Homo sapiens: one gene and its partners. The protein of the gene in region 1 interacts with the protein of each later gene in a pairwise test. Each region holds a gene or a part of one and is shown in the gene's direction. Other genes may lie near its edges.

The links.
Region 2: the proteins of TEAD2 (region 1) and VGLL4 interact in binary tests that used the Homo sapiens proteins (3 or more experiments, as listed by UniProt).
Region 3: the proteins of TEAD2 (region 1) and RUNX1 interact in binary tests that used the Homo sapiens proteins (3 or more experiments, as listed by UniProt).

The regions. Positions count from the first base shown.
Region 1 is NC_000019.10:49,345,409-49,352,435, reverse strand, and holds part of TEAD2 (transcriptional enhancer factor TEF-4), read left to right. Parts: intron 1-1,070; coding exon 1,071-1,135; intron 1,136-3,376; coding exon of another isoform or gene 3,377-3,479; intron 3,480-3,590; coding exon 3,591-3,733; intron 3,734-5,072; coding exon 5,073-5,246; intron 5,247-7,027. UniProt on the Homo sapiens protein: Transcription factor which plays a key role in the Hippo signaling pathway, a pathway involved in organ size control and tumor suppression by restricting proliferation and promoting apoptosis.
Region 2 is NC_000003.12:11,563,889-11,570,915, reverse strand, and holds part of VGLL4 (transcription cofactor vestigial-like protein 4), read left to right. Parts: intron 1-2,117; exon of another isoform or gene 2,118-2,309; coding exon of another isoform or gene 2,310-2,311; intron 2,312-5,074; exon of another isoform or gene 5,075-5,896; coding exon 5,897-6,119; exon of another isoform or gene 6,120-6,630; coding exon of another isoform or gene 6,631-6,657; intron 6,658-7,027. UniProt on the Homo sapiens protein: May act as a specific coactivator for the mammalian TEFs.
Region 3 is NC_000021.9:34,787,276-34,794,302, reverse strand, and holds the end of RUNX1 (runt-related transcription factor 1), read left to right. Parts: intron 1-1,692; coding exon 1,693-2,168; 3' UTR 2,169-6,502; downstream 6,503-7,027.

The DNA.
Region 1 (7,027 bases):
CGCCTGGTCTGACCTCTGACATCTAAGTCTCTTCACCACTATCTCTTGGGCTACTAGGGCTGTGACTGATACTGTAGCCACTAGCCTCATGCAGCTATTTAAATTAAAATTAAATAAAATTAAAGATTCTGTTTCTCAGGTCCATGAGCCACACTTGTGCTCAGTGGCCACGTGGTCTGTGGTCAGTAGCCACATGTGGGCACTGGGTACCGTATTGGATGGCACAGATTTCCATCCAATAGAACATTTCCATCCCTGGAAAGTTCTATTGGCCAGTGCTGCCTCCCCACCCCGACTTTGGCCTCCTGTCCCATCTCCTGAGTGTTGGTCATTTTCTTCCCACCCTCCCAACCCCTCAGCCTCTTCTTCCTCCAAATTCCTTGTCTTCTGCGTCTTCTCCCTGCCTTCCAAGACTTGGTTTCTCTTCTCTCCTCTTTCTTTTTATTTTTTTTTTGAAATGGAGTCTTGCTCTGTCACCCAGGAGTATAATGGCGTAATCTCGGCTCACTGCAACATCTGCCTCCCGGGTTCAAGCAGTTCTCCTGGCCCAGCCCCCTGAATAGCTCGGATTACAGGCGCGCACCACCACACTCTGCTAATTTTTGTATTTTTAGTAGAGATGGGATTTCACCATGTTGGCCAGGCTGGTCTCGAACTCCTGACCTCAAGTGATCTGCCCGCCTCAACCTCCTGAAGTGCTGGGATTACAGGTGTGAGCCACCACGCCAGGCTGGTTTCTCTTCTCTTTCTGACATTTTGTGAGAGATACCAAAATGTCATCATCAAGAGCCTGAGATACCGGGCTGAGACTGACCTGGGTTCAAGTCCCAGCTCTGCTGCATCTCAACTGTGTGACTTTGGGCAGGTCAGTTGACCCCTCTATACCTCAGTTGTCCTCATTTGTGCAATGAAAAGAGCAGTCATTCTACCTACCTCACGCACTGTGAGGCTTCAGTGAGATTGTGCACAAAATGCACAGGGTCTTGCTTGTTGTGGCCTCTCAGTAAACATTTGCTGGTGACATTAGCATCTTTCTACCTGGCTAACCCCTGGCTTCCTTTTTCCCTCAGTGTGAAGCCATTCTCACAGACACCGTTCACCTTGTCACTGACTCCCCCATCTACTGACCTCCCAGGTAAGAGCCTGCGCTCCACCCTCCCTTGTCTCCCCTCTCTCTCTTCGACCCCTACTGCCTTTCCTTCAACCTTCCATCAATTGAGGGATACATTGTTTTTTTTGTTTTATTTTGTTTTGTTTTGAGATGGAGTCTCCCTCTGTCGCCAGGCTGGAGTGCAGTGGCGTGATCTCGGCTCACTGCAACCTCCGCCTCCTGGGTTCAAGTGATTCTCCTGCCTCAGCCTCCCGAGTGGCTGGGATTACAGGTGCCCGCCACCATGCCGGGCTAATTTTTGTATTTTTAGTAGAGATCGGGTTTCACCATGTTGACCAGGATGGTCTCGATCTTTTGATATTGTGATCCGCCTGCCTCGGCTTTCCAAAGTGCTGGGATTACAGGTGTGAGCCACCGCACCCGGCCAATTAGGGGATACATTCTTACTGAAGCCCAGCTTTGAGGCAGGGTGTGTGTGTTGGGGGCGGGGGAGCCGGGAGGGGCTGGAGAGCTGAGTGGTGGAACTGGTGATGGTTAGGAGATTTTGGTCTTTGCAGCCACACACTGGGTTTGTGTTCTGCCACTTGCTAGCTTATGAGACATGGGGGAGGTATGTTAGTCAAGATTCTTTCAGCTGCAAGTGATAGAAATCCAAATCAAGCCAGCTGAAGCAACATTTTAAAAAAGAAGAGGCAGGTGCGGTGGCTCACAGCTGTAATCCCAGCACTTTGGGAGGCCTAGGCGGGTGGATCACCTGAGGTCAGGAGTTCGAGACCAACCTGGCCAACATGGCGAAACCACCCCCCCCAACCTCTACTAAAAAATACAAAAATTAGCCAGGCGTGGTAGCAGTAGCACTTGCCTGTAATCCCAGCTACTCGGGAGGCTGAGGCAGGAGAATCACTTGAACCTGGGAGGCAGAGGTTGCAGTGAGCCGAGGTGGCACCGTTGCACTCCAGACTGGGCGACAGAGCAAGACTCTGTCTCAAAATAAATAAATAAATAAAATAAAAAATAATAAGAAAAATGTATTGATTTATTGGTTCCAGTAACTGACAGTTCAGAATTATGGCCTCAGGCGTGGCTGGATCCAGCGGCTCAAGTGATGGCATCAGTCATTACTTTGATCTGCTTTCCACTGTGGTGGCTTCATTCCCAGGCAGACTCAGCTACTTGGCAGCAAAGATGGCTTCTGGAAGTCCATGCTGATATGGCCCTGAGAACTCACATCAGTGAAAGAGGGAGTCCCTTAGTTTCCATAGATTTATCAATTAGGAATACTTTTGGCTGCAAGTAACAGAAGACCCACATTAAAAGTGCCTTAAATAGTAAAAGCATTCATGTTATGAATCCATGCAACAAAAAGCCTGGAGGTGGGCTGTTCCCGTGTGGGCTTAGCAATATCAGGACTGGAATCTCTGTAGTTCCTCTCATGTCTGTCTTATTGTCCCAAGATGGCTGTTGCAACTCCAGGGATCATGTCTGTGTTGGTCCATTTGCATTGCTGTAAAGGAATGCCTGAAACTGGGTGATTTATAAAGAAAAGAGGTTTATTTGGTTCACAGTTCTGCAGGCTGTACAGGAAGCATGTTGCCAGCCTATGCTTCTGGTGAGGGCCTCAGGAAGCTTAGGACCATGGTGGAAGGGGAAGGGGAGCCACTATGTCACATGGTGAGAGGGAGCAAGAGAGCGAAGCCAGGCTCCTTTAAACAGCCAGCTCACATCAACTCAAAGAGTGAGAATTCACTTGTTACTATGGGGAAGGCACCAAGACATTCATGAGGGATCCACCCCCATGACCCAAGCACTTCCCATCAGGCCCCACCTCCAACCTTGGGGATCACACTTTTTTTTTTTTTTTTGAGACAGAGTCTCGCTCTGTCCCCCAGTCTGGAGTGCAGTGGCGCAATCTCGGCTCACTGCAACCCCCGCCTCCTGGGTTCAAGCCATTCTCCTGCCTCAGCCTCCTAAGTAGCTGGGATTACAGGCACGTGCCACCATGCCCAGCTAATATTTTGTATTTTTAGTAGAGACAGGGTTTCACCATGTTAGCCAGGACGGTCTCAATCTCCTGACCTTGTGATCCACCTGCGTTGGCCTCCCAAAGTGCTGGGATTACAGGTGTGAGCCACCGTGCCCAGCTGGGGATCACATTTCAACATGAGATTTGGAGGGGACAAATATCCAAACCATATCAATCTCCCAAGCAGGACTTGGCCAGGGCCAAAAGCTTTCTCCTCCCAAAGTTCTGTCTTTTTCATTCAGGAAGAAACTCCTTCCCAGAAGCCCCCCAGCAGATTTCCCCTAACGTCTCATTGGCTAGGACTGTGTCACATGGCCACTTCTAACTGCAAGGGAGGCTGGGAAAGTGAGTATTTAGCTTTTTCAGCTTCTAAGTGGAGGCAGGCAAGAGACAACAGTACCTGATATATTCCATAAATGTTAGCAATTTGTATTGTTCTTTCTTCTCTCTCTCTAGGGTACGAGCCCCCCCAAGCCCTCTCACCCCTGCCCCCACCTACCCCATCGCCCCCAGCCTGGCAGGCTCGGGGCCTGGGCACCGCCCGGTTGCAGCTGGTAGAGTTCTCAGCCTTCGTGGAACCGCCAGATGCAGTTGATTCTGTGAGTGAAATTTTGGTACAGTCGCTGAGGGATTTTGAAATATAGAGGGTGACAGGAAGGGAATGTATAAAGTCATGGTTTTAAAACTTTAGCATGTATCAGAATCATCTGAAGGGCTTCTTAAAACAGAGATTGCTTTCTGATTTGCTAGATGTGATGTGGGGCTTGAGAATTTGCATTTCTAATAAGCTACCAGGTGCGTTGATGCAGCTGGTCTGGGGACCGTACTTTGAGAACTACTAGCATAAAGGAACTGGAAGGTCATAGGGTGACAAGTTGGGAAGGTCAGAAAAGCTCCCCAGGACATCATTCATTCATTTATCAAACGTGTTTGAGTTTCTACTGTTCACTAGGCTTTGTGATGCATACTAGGAACTTGGAAAAGATTTTATTTCTGTGCTTGAGCTTCTCCTGGGCTAGGATGGAGTGGGCCGACTGTTAGAAGAAACAGCTCCTAACTCTTAGGGACTGAATGCCAGATAAGTTGCATGTAACATTTCAATGTAGGTTCAGCAGGAGCCTTGGACTCAAGTGATTTGGGGATCCAGGCTCCTTCCATTTTGTGGCTCTGCCATTTTCTAAGGCTTCAGAATCTGCTGATGGAGTCTCTGCATCTGGCCAGCAGATGGAGGAAGGGAGAGAGTCAAGATTGTGCAGGAGGTTTTAGGAATCTGACTTGGATGTGTCGACTCTCAGGCCTGGTCACATCCCATTGGCCAGAACTTAGTCATGTGGTCACACCTAACTGCAAAGCGGCCTGGGAAATGTAGTTTCACACTGTGTAAAGGAACCAGGATTTGTGAACACGTAGCAGTCTCTGCCACACCATATAAACATCAATCAAAACATCAACCACAAGACCTCTGTGGATTCCCATTCATTCACTCTTCCATCCATTGACCATTTATGAGCACCTGTTCTATATAGGACCAGGCCTAGGGGGTGTGAGCTTTGCCCTGGGGCTGCTGGGGAGCTATGGGAGGGCCATGACCAGGGGAGGGTCAGGGGCAGGTCTGGAGCCACATGAGGGATGAACTGGAGAGGCGAGGTTGGAGGCTGGGGTGAGGGTGGGAGGCCTGAGGTGAGGCTGAGGCAGTGAGGATGGAGTTGGGGGAGTTGTGGCAGGGAGTTGGGGACTGTAGGACTGCAGGGCTGCAGGGGACTGGGTGCAGAAGCAGGAGTGGGGACGATGGGTGGCAGTCAGGCCCAGTGCTGGGTGGACTGTGTGGAACAGCTGGCCAGAGCTGTGGGGATGGTGACGGCATTTGGTGGGCTCAGGCAGCACAGGCTGGAGATCCAGCTCACCTCCGACTTCTCACCCACGGCCAACCCTCCTCAGTACCAGAGGCACCTGTTCGTGCACATCAGCCAGCACTGCCCCAGCCCCGGAGCGCCGCCGCTCGAGAGTGTGGACGTCCGGCAGATCTACGACAAATTCCCTGAGAAAAAGGGTGGCCTCCGAGAGCTATATGATCGTGGCCCCCCCCATGCCTTCTTCCTGGTCAAGTTCTGGGTGAGTTCTCACAGCAAAATCAAAAGTGCTCACAAATCCTGTGGTGTCCCAGCAAAGGCCTCTGGCCCTGAGAGAATCTGTCGCGGGCCCTACCAGGTCAGCCTGGGACTTACCAGTCAGTCCTCATGGCTTGGAGTGTCAGCCCCCTTTGCAACAAGGAACACCGAGGAGGCCAGCCCCCAGGGTGGGTTGGAGGTGTCTGGGCCTCCCTGGATCCCACTAGACATTGCCACATGTAACTAATACGGTGAGTTACCTGGCCATGTAGCTAATAGGGTCCTGGGCATGGGCTTGCCATGTTCCAGGCTTCCCTGTGCCCCACCTGACTGCACCAAGCCGTGCTGCTAAGGAAAGACCCCTCCCCGTAGCCAGTGGACTTGTGGAGACTGGTTTCTAAAGAGGGGACTGATGCTTTGCATCAGTTTCACCAGACCTTGTTGCTAGAGAATGTCTGGCTTTGAGGAAGTGATGAAAAGAGCCATGGAGTGGCTTTGCCAAGTCCTGTATTCATTTATTTGTTTATTTATTTATTTTTGAGACATAGTCTCACTGTCACCCAGGCTGGAGTGCAGTGGCTGTATCTTGGCTCACGGCAACCTCCGCCTCCTGGATTCAAGCGATTCTCCTGCCTCAGCCTCCCCAGTAGATTGGACTACAGGCACCCGCCACCACATCTGGCTAATTTTTGTATATTTAGTACAGACGGGGTTTCACCATGTTGGCCAGGCTGGTCTTGAACTCCTGGCCTCAAATGATCTGCCCACCTTGGCCTCCCAAAGTGCTGGGATTACAGGTGTGAGCCACCGCACCCGTCCAAGTCCTGTATTTATGTAGCAATCATTTATTGAGCACTTCCTATATAGACGCCTGGTGTCAGCTGCTATTTATATGATTGGGACTAAGAGGGCCCATCTTGCGTGTTTCTTAGGGCTACTTGGTTTGGTGTCCAGTATGATGACTAACACTACAGGGGTTCAATAAATGTGTTTTATTTTCTTTTATTGTTTTTTTTTTTTTTTTTTTTGAGATGGAATTTTGCTCTTGTTGCCCAGGCTGGAGTGCAATGGTGCGATCTCGGCTCACTGCAACCTCTGCCTCCTGGGTTCAAGCGATTCTCCAGCCTCAGCCTCCCAAGTAGCTGGGATTACAGGCATGCACGACCATGCCCAGCTAATTTTTGTATTTTTAGTAGAGACGGAGTTTCGTCATGTTGGCCAGGCTGATCTTGAACTCCTGACCTCATGTGATCCGCTCACCTTGGCCTCTCCAAGTGCTGGGATTACAGGCATGAGCCACTGCACCTGGCCTAATTTTTGTATTTTTAGTAGAGACAGGGTTTTACCATGTTGGCCAGTCTGGTCTCGAACTCCTGACCTCAAGTGATCCACCCACCTTGGCCTCCCAAAGTGCTGGGATTACAAGTGTGAGCCACAGTGCCTGGCCTGGGCTCAATAAATGTTGCCTGGATGTTTAGGGGGTGCTAGTTCTTATAGTAACAAAGGTGGTGGAGGGATCTAGTCTCTGAGAAGAAAGCCTGGCTAGGTGTGGTGGTTCACTCCTATCTTCCCAGCACTTTGGGAAGCTGAGGCGAGAGTTTCGCTTGTGTTCAAGAGTTTGACACCAGCCTGGGCAACACAGTGAGACCTCAACTCTACAAAAAATGAAAAAAATTAGCTGGGTGTGGTGGTGCGCACCTGTGGTCCTAGCTTCTGTGGAGGCTGAGGCAGGAGGATCACTTAAGCCTGGGAGGTGGAGGCTGCAGTGAGCCAAGATTGTGCCAC
Region 2 (7,027 bases), on another chromosome or scaffold:
CACTGGGAAGCAGTGAATTCTCCCACTCACAAGGGGAGAGAAGCCACGGTGATGAGTTCACTCCTGTGTGTGTGTTGTGGGGTGCTTTGGATGAGCTCGGGGACATTTAGAAGCAGGGAGGAGGTGAGGAGGACAACAGAAGTTGGAGGAAGGGACTAAAAGGGAGAAGACATCTCACCACTGTTTATGCCCAACATTTAAATGTTCCTTAAATTTTGCTTTTTCAGAAAAAAGTCTTTGCCACCAGTCATTTTCTCTGAAATCTCCTTAACTCCCTTGTCATTTGCCACAAACGCTGTTAACTGGACTCACACATACTATGTGTACCTTAATGATTTATTTACTCTATGGACAGTTATTAGAACATCTGGTATGTGGTCACCCGTGCGGAGCCAAGGAGATTAGGGCGTGGGGGCTGCAGTGTCAGCCTTCCCGGGAGTGCACGGTCCAGCCAGGGACCGGGGTCCCCTGGGAGCTGTGCTTCAGAAGCTTACTGACTGAGAAAGCCAGCGTGGCAGGACTGTCCGGGGACAGACCTTGGTGGCCGGCATCTCCGCACTGCTCCTTTCCTGTGTCTCTGCAGTTGGGGCAGGAAGGTGGGTGGAAATGGTGCTGGTGGGTCGGAAAGGCCTCCTGGCAGCTTGGGATGGAGCTGCGAGGTGATGGAGAGTCTCTTGGTGGGCCTGGTGTGACGACCCTGAGCGGCTGATGCCACAGGGCCGGTGTCTGTGGTGGGCAGCATGTCTAGGCAAAGCCTTCATCTTCTCCACCTTGGTCATCTCTTCTGTAAAACTGGGATGGTGCTGACCTGCCCTGTGCACATCAGAAACCCCAGGGGGCAGCAGGTAAAGGTTGGGAGGAAGTTCTGTCTATATTATTCAGGTAAAATTTTATTATTTAAAAAGCTGTAGTAAATTAGCAGAGCATACAGCTGACCACTTTAACCAGGTTTCAGGGCACCCTTCAGTGGCATTAAGTCTGTTTTCTGAGGAAGCTTTTTAAGATTAAAGATGTGCTAGCAATCTTATTTATTTAAAGACAGGGTCTTGCTCTGTCACCCAGGCTAAAGTGCAGTGGCGTGACCATGGCTCACTGTAGCCTCCACCTCCTGGGCCCAGGTGATCCTCCCACTTCAGCCTCCAAGTAGCTGGGACCACAGGTGCACGTCACCATGCCCAGCCAGCAGTCTCATTATGATGTGTTAAGACTGTGTGAACGACTGGCTGTCCTGCCAGTTCTCAGATGTCGGATTCTCCTGTAACTGCTGCGGTGGGAGAGAGAGGACGAAAGGGCTGGAGATGGGGCTGTGTCCCGGCCCACTCACTGGCCCTGTGCCGGCCCCTCCTCCTTTGAATCTCTTGTCTCCACCTGGACTCTGGTGCTTGGGGGATGTCTCTGCATAGCCTTCATTCTACTCCTGCCAGGCAACGCCTGGCATGGGGACGGGCTGCTTTGCCGCCTCAGGATGTTGGTTTTTGGGAGGCCAGGGCCCAAGGCTGCCCTGGGCCTCATCTCTTTCACTGGGTGGGAGCACCTGCCATGCCATGGTGCTCAGGGGCCTTTGGGGACCCCAGAATGTATCCTCAAAATGTCTTGTACCCATACCCCCTCCCCAGGCAGAGGAACTCAGACTCAGATCAGTGTAGCTTGTGGCAGTCCACGGTGAATGAAGCCCAGCGCAGGCTCAGAACGTCAGGTGATGGGGCTAAGGGCTAAGCATCCCAAAGCACGTTTGTTGGAGGGTGGGAAACTCATTTTAATGAGTATCAAATAGACGCAGTGCACTTCTTTCACGTGATGGATTCTTTCAATGTCACTGCTTGGAATCTGGTTTACTTTTCCCCAGATGTTATGGACATTCTTGGTTTCTTAGCTTAGAGAGCGTGTGGCTTTCAGTACTCAGAAAGCTCTGTCCTGGATGATGGTGTTGTAGGCCTCTCTTTCCCTCCCTCCTCTTTCCATCTTTCTCTCCGTGGGCAGCTGGCAGTGGAAGTGCCCGCCTAGGATGGGGATGAGGCCCGGGGCGGGGCCGGGTGCCGTGCAGCCTCAGCGGCTCTGATAGGCCTGGCACGGAGCCACTCAGAGTCCTTTGGGTGTTCGCGGGGATGCCGTGGGCTCTCTCGGGCACAGTCCTGACCAGGAGCGGAGGCGACTTCCATCTCCCGGGCAGGATGCGTGCGGTTTTCTGCCGTCCCCGGGAGCACATGACGCCTGGGAAGCAGTGGCCGGGAGGTGATTCATCCGGGCGAGCGGGGCCTGGAAAACAATGTCTGTCTTGAAGCTCCGGGAACCAGGAAAATGAGCTGGAAATGTGAGTAATGTATAATTTTACTAAAATTAACCAGCCAGTTCTCCAGGCCTTTTCTCGCTGTTTTCAGTGTCTTTGTCTGACCCATAGTGCCCACTGTGCTGTGTTCCACGGACTGTCTTTCCAGTTAGTGGGCCTGGAAGTCCCCTTCTCCCTGCTGCCCTGCGTAGGGTGGGCGCACAGTGGGGCTGTGGGAGCATAGATGGCAGATTTAGGTGCAGGGCTGCCCCGTCCTTACCTCTGCCCTGGCAGCTGGCGGCCCTGGCACCCCTTTCCTCTGTGATGTGGTCTCATAGTCATGCTTGGATTTCCTAAGGCGCAGCTGAGTCATCTGCGTGACTGTGCCGTGCCCCTAGGACATAAGGTGCGAGGGGTGGGCAGTGCCTTATGTACCACGACTTTGGCTTTGGACATGGGCAGACGCCTGACCTTTAGTCTGCTCCTCCATGCCACCCGGGGGTGTCTTTATCCTTGCCCGGATCCAGAGCTGTCACTTGGGAGCTGCAGCCCCTCCCGGGCCTTTCTGTCCCTGCTAGATTGTAAGCCCATGAGAAGGCAGGGCTGTAACCCTGCAGTTCTGGAACCTCCACAGAACAGGGACTTAACTAGCGCTGGTTGAGTAAACAGACGTCTAAATTCGGAGGCAGACTGTGTCTGAGGCTCTCCTGAATCTGGGACATGAGCCCCCAGGTCTATGCACTTCATGAAGTGGCCCGTGGAAGCATCACCTGGGGTGGAGAGAAGCCATTCACTCATGTTGTTAACAATAAAATTGTATCTTTATCTGAATTTAGAAGGGAGCGGGACACTGAAGATGAGGATGTGTGGTGACACTGATGAACTGAGTATTCAGGAACCAAGTCCCGTTTAGGTAGAAGCCAGCAGATCTCAGGACTGCTTGGCCTGACGTCCGTTCCGCGGAAGGTCTTCTGGTGACATCGGTGTCTGGGATCATAACCCTTGAGGCATTCATTGCAGAAACCTGTGCTGTCTTCTGAATCGCCACAGACAGATGACATTATGGACAGGCTGGTTTCAGTATTAAGGTTTTTAGTATTTTAACGTTTTGAAAATCGCCAGGATGTGTGTGGCGTGGATGGAACCTACTATCTAGACTCTGCCAGAACATTCTCTTCCATGATTGTCTTAATGGGCTGAACATTTAATCCTTAATTGCTTTTAAGATATTCTGTATCATCAGCCAGAAAATAAAGGGGAAGAAAAAAACCCCATAAACGAATACTGGGTCCTGTACAGCTAATCACCCTATAATCAATATACTCGGTTTAGGGCTGACAGGGTTCTCTTGGCGCTCACTGAGGGCTGCACTGCGCCGCTCTGATTGTTTTTGTTTGTGTGCTGTTTGTCCCCCATTTAGAGTCCTCTGGGTGGATCTTACTGTGACCACATGGTTACATGGGGACGCCGAGGCTCGGAACGCCTCGGGTCACTAAGCTGAGCGCGTGCCCCTGCTGGAGATGGCGCAGAATGACATCACAACATCACAGCCGAGGCTGCACTCAGGCCCCCTCTGGTGCTTCTCCTGCTCAGCCCTTAGCAGCTCACCGACTGGGCCGCAGGGTCCATCTAAAGGCTTGAATGCGCCTCCAGTTGACTCCTCAGCCCTCCAGCTCTCCATGATTCTGCCCACCCACAGTTCCACTCCACGATACCTGCCTTTCTTACACGGTCACCCATATGCTGCTTCTCTTCATTCACCCGTTAAGTCTCTGTGCACCCCTGGTAGCAAGCGTAATGAGACAGGAGGGACTCGACGCCCTCAGAGGCTGCCGTGTGTGAGGAGGGGCGGGTGCGTAGACGAAGAGATCATTGACGGTGGGGGATGGATTCTGTATTAAAGGTTTGCACGGGGCGCCTTGGGATTCTACACTGCAGCTGTGGTTGGCAGCGCAGGACGGGGAGGAGGGAGGCTAGAGCGGCACCGCGTGTACACAGCCACAGAGGCAGAGAGTGGCCGCATCTTATTTGAGGAATGGCAAGTAGATGGTTGGAACTACGGAACACAACATTTGGAGGCGTGAAGCCAGAGATGAGGACGGGAAGGTGGTCAGGCCCAGAGGCTACCAAGGCCCGTGCTGAGCTGCTAAAAACATTCACTAAGGGCTGGATGTGGTTGGATTTGCCTTATAAAGAGATTGCTCTGGAATGGATACAAGCAAAACACGAAATCTGAATAAGGTTGGTAGTTGTCTCATTGTCGATATCCTGGTTGTGATATTGTACTGTAGTTTTACAAGATGTCACCATCGCGGGAGTCAAGGTAAAGGGTGCATGGGATGGCCGTGTGTTGTTTCTTACAACTGAAGTTAATCTACAGTTTTAGAAAGGTACGCCTATCACATGCGTGTGTGTGTGTGGTGTGCGTGTGTGTAACATTCAGTGTGTGTGTAACATTCTGTGTGCATGCGTAACATTGTGTGTGTAACATTCATTGTGTGTGTAACATATTCAGCCAGTCCGGGACGGGGGCTGTGGCTGCTGCTTCACCAGGGCAGGCCTAGGCTTTTCTGCTAGTTAAGACAGGTGACTACTTGTAGACTCTGAAAATAATTTGTATTTCTTAAAATTCACTCAAATCATAATTCACCACCTTTTTCTTTAAATGACCAGCTCATGAGTTACGGAAAAAGGTTACTCTGTCAGCGGATAATATGGTGGATTGAAGGGGCAAGACCCAAGGCAGATGGAACTGTGGGACCCCTGGAATAAAGCAGGGAGGGTGGACCAGGGCTGGCCATGGCTTACCTGTGTGGGGTTGGTGTCTAATAGATGCAACACGTAACGCTGCCTTCAGACTAACACATCAGATGGAGGTGGTGCTGACTGTCTCACCTGGATTCCACGTGGCATCGCCTGGGTGCTCAGCACATGGCCAGGGCTAGTGATGGACCTTCTGGACGCAGGTCACTCCTGCTCGTGTGTCCTGGACGAGAGAGCTGCGCGCCGGCTCCCTACAGCACCCCGGGAACCCCAGAGCACGTGCCACCACATGTCAGCTGGGAGTCTGAGCTGATTATTCCACCACTCTTGAGTCTTGGGGTTCTGGTCTGGAAAGGGGATGGTGGCAGCATTGCCTGCTTAGTGCTGTTAGGAAGACGGGCTGAGCAGTACTGTGAGGAAGATGGGCTGAGCAGTGCTGTGGAGGCTTTGAATAGGGCCCTGCATGTAGGACGCAGCCAGTGACTCTGGATCGTTGTCAGCGTCCCCGTCCTGTCCAAATGGCAGGTCCTTATCGAACCAGCTTGGCCTCCAGCTCCCCAGGCTCCCAGGGAGTGGAGATTATTATAGAAGTGAACACAGAGTCAGGCAGAGGACGCCACTGAGTCGGGGGCTCCATCTTCTATGGAGCTGACTTTGGACTCCGCTGGCAGCAGCTTCTCCGGCACCCAGAGGCTTTGGTGTCCGGCTGACCCGGGCTGGCAACCGGCTCCTCATCGTGCTGCCCAGCCACACGACCTGAGCTTCAGGGTAAAAAATTAAATAAGCAACACGGAGTGCCTGGCGCACAGTCACTGTCCCCTTTGCCTTTGAGAAAACGCCCCCTGAATGCCCATTCCTCTTTTTCAGGAACAAGACTGCCAATGGAGACTGCCGCAGAGACCCCCGGGAGCGGAGCCGCAGCCCCATCGAGCGCGCTGTGGCCCCCACCATGAGCCTGCACGGCAGCCACCTGTACACCTCCCTCCCCAGCCTTGGCCTGGAGCAGCCCCTCGCACTGACCAAGAACAGCCTGGACGCCAGCAGGCCAGCCGGCCTCTCGCCCACACTGACCCCGGGGGAGCGGCAGCAGGTGGGCCTCTGTCTGGGAGGGTGGCGTGGGGAGTCCAGGGGCTGGGGGACTGGGCTGGATGGAGAGCCCCGAGCAGAGGACTCCGAGGGCGGTGGTGAGGGAGGGAGGTGGTGAGGGAGGGAGGTGGTGAGGGATGCCACCCTTCGCCTCTGTTGTGCACTTGGGACAAGGGACAGCAGAACAGGAGTCCTCTTCTGCTTTTACTTCCTGCCCAGACCTGCCCGGGCCTTGCCTCTTAGCACTCACGGCCTTGGGCAAGGTGAATGTCACTGGGGCTTCATCTCTTTCCTCTCCCAGTACAGGGGTGGTGTACTGAGGTGTTTCCTCCAGCAGTCTTCTGTGGCAGGCCTGATTCTCTTAGGATGAATGTAGTCATCCTCGGGTGGGGGGGTCCTACGTTTCTCCTTTAGACGGTCACGCGGATGAAGGGAAATGTCAGGTTGCTTTGCCTTGGGCTGGGGTCCTGCACAGTTGATGGTCACAGGGTTGTGAGCCCATGCTGGTCAGAAGCCTATGATTGGTACATAGGGATTTTTTTCTATGAAAGGAAAATAGGAAATTAAATGATTGCTTAATAAACACAGCTTGCTTGGTAGAAACAAATCTTTTTAAAAATGGGGTTCCTGGGGAAATATATGGGAGAAGGCAGCAGCATTGAGGAGGCTCAAAATTACTGCTTGAGCTCTCCGAATCTCCAGGGACTGCGACCTAATAGGTCCTTAGTCAGTAGTCAGCATTTGCTAAGACTGACAGAGAGGATGGTGCCGTGCCCCGAGGGGGTGCCTCCGGGCTCTGTGCATTCAGCTGCAAGAGCCTCTGTGTCCCTGTGGCCTCACCGGGGCTTCCCTCCAAGTGGCACTGCCTGGTGTCCGTGTCTGATGGGGTCTGTTGAAACTGTGGGTGGGGTA
Region 3 (7,027 bases), on another chromosome or scaffold:
ATACTAGGAAATTATCAATTTTTCAACTGTCGAAGGCCTATAAAAATGGCAATTTTCTATCATTCAACCTAAATACTATGTGTAATGTATTATTATATATTAATATTGTTAGGATATATATTATGTATAACATATTGTGTTAGTAGTAACATATTTGTGCATCCTTTACATTAGTGTCAAATTATCATCTGCTATATTAATATCACAGATTAATTTATATTATTGGTATATTAATATATTGATCAAATAGAGGGTCAGCAAACTTTTTTCTGTAAGGGGCCAGAGAATAAATATTTTAGGGCTGGGCACGGTGGTTCATGCCTGTAATCCCAGCACTTTGGGAGGCTGAGGCAGGTGGATCACTTGAGGTCAGGAATTCGAGACCTGCCTAGCCAACGTGGTGAAATCTCATCTCCACTAAAAATACAAAAATTGGCCAGGCCTGGTGGCGGGCGCCTGTAATCCCAGCTACTCGGGAGGCTGAGGCAGTAGAATTGCTTGAGCCCAGGAGGTGGTGGGTGCAGTGAGCCGAGATCACACCACTGCACTCCAGCCTTGGTGACAGAGCGAGACTTTGTCTCCAAAAAAAAAAAAAAGAATAAATATTTGCTCTGTGGCTCCTGCAGTCCCTATACTGACCACCTGACTTTACAGTAGTGGCTCTAAAGCAACCACAGGCAGTACATGAAAGAATGAGTGAGGATGTGTTCCGAAGTATGGATGGACACTGAAGTTTGAATTTCCTGTCATTTTAACAGGTCAGGAAGTATTCTTTTTTGGATTTTTTTTTCAACCATTTAAAAAATGTAAAATGCATTCTTACCTCCTGGGACATGCAAAAATGCCAGATTTGGCTGGCAGGCTGCAGTTTGCCAACCCTAGGATTATATCAACATTTTATATACGTTATACATATTATAGTATATACTATTGCACATTATATCTATACTATACATATTATGCTATACTACATCATTTCATATATCATGTCATATTACATTACATGATATTCTATATTACCGTATTATATTACTGTATATTATACCATCCTCCTGGGCAGTAGCAGCCTCCTGATCCCCGTCCTCCTGGGCATAGCATCCTGGGTGACCTCATCTTTTTGGGTGGCAGATTCTGGGTAGAAACCCTCTCCCTAGGCAGCAGCATCCTCAGTAGCCCCCATCCTCCCAGGTGGTAGCAATCCTGTGTGGTTCCAATCTTCCTGGGCGGTAAATTCTGATAGAAACCCATCTCCCTGGACAGTAGCATCCTGGGTGTCCCCCGTCCTCCTAGGCGGTAGCATCCTGGGTGGTCTCCATCCTCCCAGGTGGTGTCATCCTGGGTGGTCTCCGTCCTCTCAGGAGGTGGCATCCTGAGTGGTCCCCGACCTCCTGGGCATAGCATCATGGGTAGTCCCCATCCTCTTGGGAGGTGACATGCTGGGTGATCCTCGTCATCTCAGGAGGTGGCATCCTGGGTGGTCCCTGTCCCCCTGGGTATAGCATCCTGGGTAATCCTCGTCCTCTTGGGAGTAGCATCCCGGGTGGTCCCCGTCCTCCCCAGCAGTAGCATCCTGGGTGGCTTCCCATCCTCCTAGGCGGTATCATCCTGGGTAGCCCCCTGGGGCAGAGGGAAGAGCTGTGGCCTCCGCAACCTCCTACTCACTTCCGCTCCGTTCTCTTGCCCGCCCTGCAGCGGCACCCGACCTGACAGCGTTCAGCGACCCGCGCCAGTTCCCCGCGCTGCCCTCCATCTCCGACCCCCGCATGCACTATCCAGGCGCCTTCACCTACTCCCCGACGCCGGTCACCTCGGGCATCGGCATCGGCATGTCGGCCATGGGCTCGGCCACGCGCTACCACACCTACCTGCCGCCGCCCTACCCCGGCTCGTCGCAAGCGCAGGGAGGCCCGTTCCAAGCCAGCTCGCCCTCCTACCACCTGTACTACGGCGCCTCGGCCGGCTCCTACCAGTTCTCCATGGTGGGCGGCGAGCGCTCGCCGCCGCGCATCCTGCCGCCCTGCACCAACGCCTCCACCGGCTCCGCGCTGCTCAACCCCAGCCTCCCGAACCAGAGCGACGTGGTGGAGGCCGAGGGCAGCCACAGCAACTCCCCCACCAACATGGCGCCCTCCGCGCGCCTGGAGGAGGCCGTGTGGAGGCCCTACTGAGGCGCCAGGCCTGGCCCGGCTGGGCCCCGCGGGCCGCCGCCTTCGCCTCCGGGCGCGCGGGCCTCCTGTTCGCGACAAGCCCGCCGGGATCCCGGGCCCTGGGCCCGGCCACCGTCCTGGGGCCGAGGGCGCCCGACGGCCAGGATCTCGCTGTAGGTCAGGCCCGCGCAGCCTCCTGCGCCCAGAAGCCCACGCCGCCGCCGTCTGCTGGCGCCCCGGCCCTCGCGGAGGTGTCCGAGGCGACGCACCTCGAGGGTGTCCGCCGGCCCCAGCACCCAGGGGACGCGCTGGAAAGCAAACAGGAAGATTCCCGGAGGGAAACTGTGAATGCTTCTGATTTAGCAATGCTGTGAATAAAAAGAAAGATTTTATACCCTTGACTTAACTTTTTAACCAAGTTGTTTATTCCAAAGAGTGTGGAATTTTGGTTGGGGTGGGGGGAGAGGAGGGATGCAACTCGCCCTGTTTGGCATCTAATTCTTATTTTTAATTTTTCCGCACCTTATCAATTGCAAAATGCGTATTTGCATTTGGGTGGTTTTTATTTTTATATACGTTTATATAAATATATATAAATTGAGCTTGCTTCTTTCTTGCTTTGACCATGGAAAGAAATATGATTCCCTTTTCTTTAAGTTTTATTTAACTTTTCTTTTGGACTTTTGGGTAGTTGTTTTTTTTTGTTTTGTTTTGTTTTTTTGAGAAACAGCTACAGCTTTGGGTCATTTTTAACTACTGTATTCCCACAAGGAATCCCCAGATATTTATGTATCTTGATGTTCAGACATTTATGTGTTGATAATTTTTTAATTATTTAAATGTACTTATATTAAGAAAAATATCAAGTACTACATTTTCTTTTGTTCTTGATAGTAGCCAAAGTTAAATGTATCACATTGAAGAAGGCTAGAAAAAAAGAATGAGTAATGTGATCGCTTGGTTATCCAGAAGTATTGTTTACATTAAACTCCCTTTCATGTTAATCAAACAAGTGAGTAGCTCACGCAGCAACGTTTTTAATAGGATTTTTAGACACTGAGGGTCACTCCAAGGATCAGAAGTATGGAATTTTCTGCCAGGCTCAACAAGGGTCTCATATCTAACTTCCTCCTTAAAACAGAGAAGGTCAATCTAGTTCCAGAGGGTTGAGGCAGGTGCCAATAATTACATCTTTGGAGAGGATTTGATTTCTGCCCAGGGATTTGCTCACCCCAAGGTCATCTGATAATTTCACAGATGCTGTGTAACAGAACACAGCCAAAGTAAACTGTGTAGGGGAGCCACATTTACATAGGAACCAAATCAATGAATTTAGGGGTTACGATTATAGCAATTTAAGGGCCCACCAGAAGCAGGCCTCGAGGAGTCAATTTGCCTCTGTGTGCCTCAGTGGAGACAAGTGGGAAAACATGGTCCCACCTGTGCGAGACCCCCTGTCCTGTGCTGCTCACTCAACAACATCTTTGTGTTGCTTTCACCAGGCTGAGACCCTACCCTATGGGGTATATGGGCTTTTACCTGTGCACCAGTGTGACAGGAAAGATTCATGTCACTACTGTCCGTGGCTACAATTCAAAGGTATCCAATGTCGCTGTAAATTTTATGGCACTATTTTTATTGGAGGATTTGGTCAGAATGCAGTTGTTGTACAACTCATAAATACTAACTGCTGATTTTGACACATGTGTGCTCCAAATGATCTGGTGGTTATTTAACGTACCTCTTAAAATTCGTTGAAACGATTTCAGGTCAACTCTGAAGAGTATTTGAAAGCAGGACTTCAGAACAGTGTTTGATTTTTATTTTATAAATTTAAGCATTCAAATTAGGCAAATCTTTGGCTGCAGGCAGCAAAAACAGCTGGACTTATTTAAAACAACTTGTTTTTGAGTTTTCTTATATATATATTGATTATTTGTTTTACACACATGCAGTAGCACTTTGGTAAGAGTTAAAGAGTAAAGCAGCTTATGTTGTCAGGTCGTTCTTATCTAGAGAAGAGCTATAGCAGATCTCGGACAAACTCAGAATATATTCACTTTCATTTTTGACAGGATTCCCTCCACAACTCAGTTTCATATATTATTCCGTATTACATTTTTGCAGCTAAATTACCATAAAATGTCAGCAAATGTAAAAATTTAATTTCTGAAAAGCACCATTAGCCCATTTCCCCCAAATTAAACGTAAATGTTTTTTTTCAGCACATGTTACCATGTCTGACCTGCAAAAATGCTGGAGAAAAATGAAGGAAAAAATTATGTTTTTCAGTTTAATTCTGTTAACTGAAGATATTCCAACTCAAAACCAGCCTCATGCTCTGATTAGATAATCTTTTACATTGAACCTTTACTCTCAAAGCCATGTGTGGAGGGGGCTTGTCACTATTGTAGGCTCACTGGATTGGTCATTTAGAGTTTCACAGACTCTTACCAGCATATATAGTATTTAATTGTTTCAAAAAAAATCAAACTGTAGTTGTTTTGGCGATAGGTCTCACGCAACACATTTTTGTATGTGTGTGTGTGTGCGTGTGTGTGTGTGTGTGTGAAAAATTGCATTCATTGACTTCAGGTAGATTAAGGTATCTTTTTATTCATTGCCCTCAGGAAAGTTAAGGTATCAATGAGACCCTTAAGCCAATCATGTAATAACTGCATGTGTCTGGTCCAGGAGAAGTATTGAATAAGCCATTTCTACTGCTTACTCATGTCCCTATTTATGATTTCAACATGGATACATATTTCAGTTCTTTCTTTTTCTCACTATCTGAAAATACATTTCCCTCCCTCTCTTCCCCCCAATATCTCCCTTTTTTTCTCTCTTCCTCTATCTTCCAAACCCCACTTTCTCCCTCCTCCTTTTCCTGTGTTCTCTTAAGCAGATAGCACATACCCCCACCCAGTACCAAATTTCAGAACACAAGAAGGTCCAGTTCTTCCCCCTTCACATAAAGGAACATGGTTTGTCAGCCTTTCTCCTGTTTATGGGTTTCTTCCAGCAGAACAGAGACATTGCCAACCATATTGGATCTGCTTGCTGTCCAAACCAGCAAACTTTCCTGGGCAAATCACAATCAGTGAGTAAATAGACAGCCTTTCTGCTGCCTTGGGTTTCTGTGCAGATAAACAGAAATGCTCTGATTAGAAAGGAAATGAATGGTTCCACTCAAATGTCCTGCAATTTAGGATTGCAGATTTCTGCCTTGAAATACCTGTTTCTTTGGGACATTCCGTCCTGATGATTTTTATTTTTGTTGGTTTTTATTTTTGGGGGGAATGACATGTTTGGGTCTTTTATACATGAAAATTTGTTTGACAATAATCTCACAAAACATATTTTACATCTGAACAAAATGCCTTTTTGTTTACCGTAGCGTATACATTTGTTTTGGGATTTTTGTGTGTTTGTTGGGAATTTTGTTTTTAGCCAGGTCAGTATTGATGAGGCTGATCATTTGGCTCTTTTTTTCCTTCCAGAAGAGTTGCATCAACAAAGTTAATTGTATTTATGTATGTAAATAGATTTTAAGCTTCATTATAAAATATTGTTAATGCCTATAACTTTTTTTCAATTTTTTTGTGTGTGTTTCTAAGGACTTTTTCTTAGGTTTGCTAAATACTGTAGGGAAAAAAATGCTTCTTTCTACTTTGTTTATTTTAGACTTTAAAATGAGCTACTTCTTATTCACTTTTGTAAACAGCTAATAGCATGGTTCCAATTTTTTTTAAGTTCACTTTTTTTGTTCTAGGGGAAATGAATGTGCAAAAAAAGAAAAAGAACTGTTGGTTATTTGTGTTATTCTGGATGTATAAAAATCAATGGAAAAAAATAAACTTTCAAATTGAAATGACGGTATAACACATCTACTGAAAAAGCAACGGGAAATGTGGTCCTATTTAAGCCAGCCCCCACCTAGGGTCTATTTGTGTGGCAGTTATTGGGTTTGGTCACAAAACATCCTGAAAATTCGTGCGTGGGCTTCTTTCTCCCTGGTACAAACGTATGGAATGCTTCTTAAAGGGGAACTGTCAAGCTGGTGTCTTCAGCCAGATGACATGAGAGAATATCCCAGAACCCTCTCTCCAAGGTGTTTCTAGATAGCACAGGAGAGCAGGCACTGCACTGTCCACAGTCCACGGTACACAGTCGGGTGGGCCGCCTCCCCTCTCCTGGGAGCATTCGTCGTGCCCAGCCTGAGCAGGGCAGCTGGACTGCTGCTGTTCAGGAGCCACCAGAGCCTTCCTCTCTTTGTACCACAGTTTCTTCTGTAAATCCAGTGTTACAATCAGTGTGAATGGCAAATAAACAGTTTGACAAGTACATACACCATATCCAATTGGTTTTGTCTTTCTCTGAGATGGAGGGTTGGGAAACTGAGTAAGGCCCACTGCACACACTAGGAAGATACCTCCAGTGAACAGCTTCAGGCTGAAGCTATGTCCTCACCCCCGGTGCTCCTAGCACACTCTGGCTTCTGAAGGCATGAGGGCCTGGAAAAGGCGCAGGCTCCCAGGGTTGCTTCTTTGCATATGAAAGAGCACTGAAGCATGTTTTAATGCTTGTTTTAAAAAATAATAATAGGCCGGCGCGGTGGCTCACGCCTGTAATCCCAGCACGTTGGGAGGCCGAGGCGGGCGGATCATGAGGTCAGGAGATCGCGACCATCCTGGCTAACACGGTGAAACTCTGTCTCTACTAAAAATATAAAAAATTAGCCTGGCGTGGTGGCGGCTGTAGTCCCAACTACTCAGGAGGCTGAGGCAGAAGAATGGCGTGAACCCGGGAGGCGGAAGTTGCAGTGAGCCGAGATCGCGCCACTGCACTCTAGCCTGGGCGACAGAGCGAGACTCCATCTC